Linked DNA regions of Homo sapiens. The protein of the gene in region 2 interacts with the protein of the main gene of each other region in a pairwise test. Each region holds a gene or a part of one and is shown on either strand. Other genes may lie near its edges.

Evidence for each region. Proteins that work in one complex are often made in the same cells at the same time.
Region 1: the proteins of PIGP (region 2) and SMAGP interact in binary tests that used the Homo sapiens proteins (3 or more experiments, as listed by UniProt).

What each region holds. Positions count from the first base shown.
Region 1 is NC_000012.12:51,263,916-51,267,415, forward strand, and holds part of SMAGP (small cell adhesion glycoprotein), read right to left. Parts: intron 1-3,500. UniProt on the Homo sapiens protein: May play a role in epithelial cell-cell contacts. May play a role in tumor invasiveness and metastasis formation.
Region 2 is NC_000021.9:37,064,874-37,067,472, reverse strand, and holds the end of PIGP (phosphatidylinositol N-acetylglucosaminyltransferase subunit P), read left to right. Parts: intron 1-92; coding exon 93-211; intron 212-1,760; coding exon 1,761-1,891; 3' UTR 1,892-2,099; downstream 2,100-2,599. UniProt on the Homo sapiens protein: Part of the glycosylphosphatidylinositol-N-acetylglucosaminyltransferase (GPI-GnT) complex that catalyzes the transfer of N-acetylglucosamine from UDP-N-acetylglucosamine to phosphatidylinositol and participates in the first step of GPI biosynthesis.

The DNA.
Region 1 (3,500 bases), on a different chromosome or scaffold from region 2:
CCATTCAATTACTAATTATAAATATTAATTATATTATATTATATTCTTCCTTACACTGATGCAGTTGTAAAATATGATTTTTAATATTTTTTTAAGTGAAGGAGGAGCCCACAAAGACAGAAGTGCCCAGGGCTCAGGAGTCATAATGTGGCCCTTCCTTTCAAGGTTCCTGGAGGATATCTTCTCTAGGAAGTCTTTATAGACTGTGAGGGAGGAATAGGTGGGAAGGTGGGGGAAGAGAAATGCAAGACAGGGGTAGAAGAGAAGAGCTGGCCTTTAGTGATCCCATCATTTAAAGTATAAGCTTTCTTCCTATCTGTGATTTCTATTCTTTTGTCTATTGCTGTCTCTGAACTTACACTTGCTTGGACCCAGTGGATAGGAGACTGTCCTAAATCACTACTTCACTCATGTCACTCGCTGGATCAAGAATGCAGCCAGGTGAGGTGGCTTGCGCCTATAATCTCAACAACTCAGGGGCAGAGGAAGGAGCATGGCTTCAGGCCGGGAGAGTTGCCTGAGCAACATAGCAAAACCCTATCTCTACAAAAAATTTTAAAATTAGCTGGGCGTGATGGTGCACGCCTGCAGTCCCAGCTGCTCAGGAGTCTGAGGTGGGAGGATCCCTCAAGCCCAGATGTTTGGGTCTGTAGTGAGCCAGGATTGTGCCACTGCACTCCAGCCTGGGCAACAGAGTAAGATCCCATCTCTTAAAAAAAAAAAAAAAAAAAAAAGGTCAGGCACAGTGGCTCATGCCTGTAATCCTAGTACTTTGGGAGGCCAAGGCAGGCGGATTGCCTGAGCTCAGGAGTTTGAGACCAGCCTGGGCAACATGGTGAAACCCCGTCTCTACTAAAATACAAAAAATTAGCCGGGTGTGGCAGCGTGTGCCTGTAATCCCAGCTACTCAGGAGGTTGAGGCAGGAGAATTGCTTGAACCCGGGAGGTGGAGGTTGCAGTGAGCCGAGATGGTGCCACTGCAATCCAGCCTGGGTGACAGAGCAAGACTCCATCGCCAGAAAAAAAAAAAAAAAAAGAGAAAGAGAGAGAGGACTGATTCAACGATCAATTTTTTAAAAAAAATTTTTAAAGGATATAAATATACAACTGAACAAGAACAAAACAAATCAACTAAAAAATGGGACAAGACTTGAATAGACATTTCTCCAAAGATATACAAATGGTCAATAAGTACATGAAAAGATGCTCCACATCACTATCACTAGGGAAATGCAAATCAAAACCACAATGAGATACCACTTCACACACAATATGATGACTACCATTAAACAGAAAGTAACAAGTGTTGGCAAGGTTGTAGAGAAACTGAAACCTTTATGCATTGCTGGTAGGAATATAAAATGGTGCAGCTGCTGTGCAAACCTATATGGTGGATCCTCAAAAAAATCAAACACAGAATTACCACATGATATAGCAATTCCACTTCTGAGCATACATCCCAAACAACTGAAAGCAGGGTCTCAAGAAGATATTTGTACACCCATGTTTATGGCAGCATCAGTCACAATAGCCAAAAGGTGGAAGCAACTCAACTGTCCATCATAGATGAATGGATAAACAAAATGTAATATACACATACAACAATATTATTCAGCCTTGAAAAAGTAGGAAATTGTGACATGCTACAATATGGATGAACTTTGAGAATATTATGCTAAGTGAAGTTAGCCAGACACAAAAGGTCTATTGTATGATTCTACTTACATGAAGTACCTAGAGCAGTCAAATTTACATAGACAGAAAATAGAACGGTGTTTGCAGGGAAATGGGGAATCAGTGTTTAATGGGTGTCAAGTTTCGGTTTGGGAAGGTAAAGTTCTGGAGATGGATGGTGGTGAGGAACATGAATTACTTAATACAGTAGTCCCCCCAGGCCAGGCACTGGCCTGTAATCCCAGCACTTTGGGAGGCCGAGGTGGGCGGATCACGAGGTCAGGAGATCAAGACCATCCTGGCTAACACGGTGAAACCCCGTCTCTACTAAAAATACAAAAAATTAGCCGGGCGTGGTGGTGGGCGCCTGTAGTCCCAGCTACTCGGGAAGCTAAGACAGGAGAATGGCGTGAACCCATGAGGCGGAGCTTGCAGTGAGCTGAGATGGCGCTACTGCACTCCAGCCTGGGTGACAGAGCGAGACTCCGTCTCAAAAAAAAAAAACAACAGTAGTCCCCTCTTATCTGCGGTTTTGCTTTCCTAGGTTTCAGTTACCCGTGGTCAACTGCAGTCCGAAAACATTAAATAGAAATTTAACAGAAAAAGAAAATTCCAGAAAGGAACAATTCATACATTTTAAATTATGTACCGTTCTGAGTAGCGTGATGAAATCTCACACCCTGCTCCATCCTGCCTGGAAAGTGAATCATCCTTTTGTGTCCATGCTATAAACGCTTAGTAGAGTACCACAGCGCTTGTGTTCAAGTAACCCTTATTTTACATGACAGTGGCCCCAAAGCACAAGAATAGTGATGCAATTTGGACATGCCAACAAGAAGTGCTTCCTTTAAGTGAAAAGGTGAAAGTTCTTGACTTAAGAAAAAAAAAAAAAGAACTGTGTACTGAGGTTTCTAAGATCTATAGTAAATAAGACATTTTAAGTGAGAGAGACCATTTTCACATAACTCTTATTACAGTATATTGTTATAGTTGTTCTATTTTATTATTATTGTTAATCTCTTACTGTGCCTAATTTACAAGTTAAGCTTTATCATAAGTATGTATGTACAGGAAAAAACACAGTATAGATGGGGTTCAGTACTATCTGAGATTTCAGGCATCCACTGGGGTTTTTGGAATGAATCCCCTGTGGATAAGCGGGGACTACTCTACCACTGAATTGTCTGCGAAAAAATGGCTAAAATGGTAATACCTGTACTATGTTTATTTTACCATAAATTTTAAAAAAGAAAAAATGGCATGAGCCTGTAATCCCAGCACTTTGGGAGGCCGAGAAGGGCAGATCACTTGAGGCCAGGAGTTTGAGACCAGCCTGGCCAACATGGCGAAACCCTGTCTCCACTAAAAGTATACAAATTAGCCAGGCGTGGTAGCGCACGCCTGTAATTCCAGCTACTAGGGAGACTAAGGTGGGAGAATTGCTTGAACCCAGGGGGCGGAGGTTGCAGTGAACCGAAATTAAGCCACTGTACTCCAGCCTGGGTGACACAGCAAGACTTGGTCTCAAAAATAATAATAATAAAATTTAAAAAATGTAAACAGCTCCCCCTTGCCAAGGTTCTAATCCCTCAGCTAGCTGCCAAGGTATCACCTTTTTTCCCTTGTGGGCAGGATTATTCTGGAGGTCCTCTGCCCACCCGCTTCCTGAACATCCTCCAGGGTAAATCGTCTCTGTAGCTTCACACATGGTATGAGGTATTCTACCTTTATCTAGAGCAGGTACACACGAAAAAGGTATTCTACGTTTCTCTAAGATACCTGCTGCGCCCCTTTGCCTGTATGAACCTTGTCCGTCTTTCAAGGGC
Region 2 (2,599 bases):
AATTTAAAAAACATGTTGGCTTTGTGACCGACTCTTGAGAATTACAACTTTTTTAAAGTGTCTATTATGTACTTTAATATTCTCTTTGGCAGATATTGGGCAGTTGCATTACCTGTCTACCTCCTTATTGCTATAGTAATTGGCTACGTGCTCTTGTTTGGGATTAACATGATGAGTACCTCTCCACTCGACTCCATCCATACAATCACAGGTAACTTTATATAAAAGGAAAGTGCTGGGGCAATGAAAGAGTGGAGTATTAGCACTTTTACCCAGAAAAGCAACAAAGAACAGGCTGCAAAACCCATGTTGGTGGTGCGCGTCTGTAATCCCAGCTACTTGGGAGGCTGAGGCAGGAGAATCACTTGAACCCAGGAGGCAGAGGTTGCAGTGAGCCAAGATCCCACCACTGTACTCCAGCTTGGGTGACAAGAGTGAAACTCCATCCTAAAAGAAAACACACACACACACACACACACACACACACACACACACACACACGGACAGTAAAAAGAAGCTACTAAGAGAAATAAATACAAACTTATATAAAAGGAAATATTTGCATGAAGGAATTAAGTTCTGATGAATACACACTAGCTATATTCATGGAGGAAATAAATTATAATTAATTATAGCACTGGTTAGCAGGTGTATGTTCCCATAAAAACCACAAGTATATGCTATATGTGTCTATAATATGTTCCCATTAACTTTGCCTGAGAGAAGCTTATCCTGAACAGACACCGTTGATCAAGGGATAGTAAATAGTACATGCAGACCTTGTTCAGAAAAAGGACTTTGGGGGTGTGTATCCTCCTCAGGATCATTGTGTACTCCTTATTCCAATTAAGTGGATAAAAGAGCCACAACACGTTCGTCTGGTTTTATTTTTTTAAAGTTCTTTCAAGTCTAAAGATGAAAATAAATCAGACTCCTGAGCTTGCTTAAATTCTAGAAAGTAAAGTATTTTTTAAGTTCCCTGGTATGATTTTTCAACTTTTCAAAACCTTTATATATTAGCCTCTACAATGTATTTTGAAAATCAATTCTATTATTTTTAAGTGTCTTTCTAATACACTGCATTCCATGCATTCTTGATTGGAATTGGCAGCAAATAGGTAATTTGTGCAAAGAGGGGAAATTGTTAAGATTGCATGAATATTTATACCAAATGATTTAATAGTTTTGCCATGTTGATTTAAATACATTTTCAAGGCCTGGATATAATTCTGTTCCCGTGAGAAATGTGCAAATGAGACTTTAATCATCATTGTATGGTTGATTAAAATATTGATTTCTTTCCAAGTTAGAGATGAAAAAAGTACTTTACTGATGTTTTTATTTTTTTATTTTTATTTATTTATTTATTTATTTTTTATTTTTTATTTTTGAGATGGAGTCTCGCTCTGTCACCCAGGCTGGAGTGCAATGGCGCAATCTCGGCTCACTGCAGGCTCCGCCCCCTGGGTTCACGCTGTTCTCCTGCCTCAGCCTCCCGAGTAGGTGGGACTACAGGCGCCCGCCACCTCACCAGGCTAATTTTGTGTGTTTGTGTTTTTAGTAGAGACAGGGATGTTTTTATTTTAATTGGGACATTTCTTCTAAAGAGAGGATTTAAGTAATCATCTAATTATGTTAAACATGATGTTTGTCACTATCCAAACGTCAGCCTAGTAAACTATGTGGTGGGTCTCCATCAGACACAGAGACTGTAGAAGAAATTGCTTAGGTAAACAGAGCTTTTTGGTCTTTTCTTACAGATAACTATGCAAAAAATCAACAGCAGAAGAAATACCAAGAGGAGGCCATTCCAGCCTTAAGAGATATTTCTATTAGTGAAGTAAACCAAATGTTCTTTCTTGCAGCCAAAGAACTTTACACCAAAAACTGAACTGTGTGTAACCATAGTAACACCAAGCACGTATTTATTTATAAGTTTTTGCCATTATAATTTTGACCATAAATTAATTTGACCATCTCTCTTATTAATAGAGAAGTAAAAAATGTAAGTTGACCTTCTCTTAGATTATGTTCAATGAATATTGTAAATGTTCAAGTATTGTTAATGAATAGAATAAATACAATATTGCATTCCCATATAGCAGACTTAAAAAAAAAAATCAATGTCAGTATAATCAAGAAGTTCCTCCAGAGAGGCATTTATATTGTAATTTGCAAAGGGCAATGATGTCCTTCCTCCTGTTTGTCCTGAGGGGCCCAGAATTCAAACCCTTAGTTTTTGGGAAGGGTACAGTTAGTACTTGTGCCATCAGATTCATGTCTAAGACACAAATATTTGTTGAGTACTCACTGTGTACCAGGTATTTTTCTAGGCACTGAGGATGAAGTAATGGTAAGATTCTCTCTCAAAGAGCTTATAGTTTTAGAAGCAGGGTGAGGCAACTAAGCAAATAAACAAGGAAATATAATTTGATGAGTGCTATGCAAAGAATTAAGATAATGTATTCTAGAATGCAAAGGGATGACTAGTTCACATTGGGTGGTCAAGGAAGGCCTCTCAGAGAGAGGCTGTTGGGATCTAAGTATAAAGCAGGTGAGGCAAAGACCATAAGGTGGGAAGGAACTTGGTTTGTCCTAA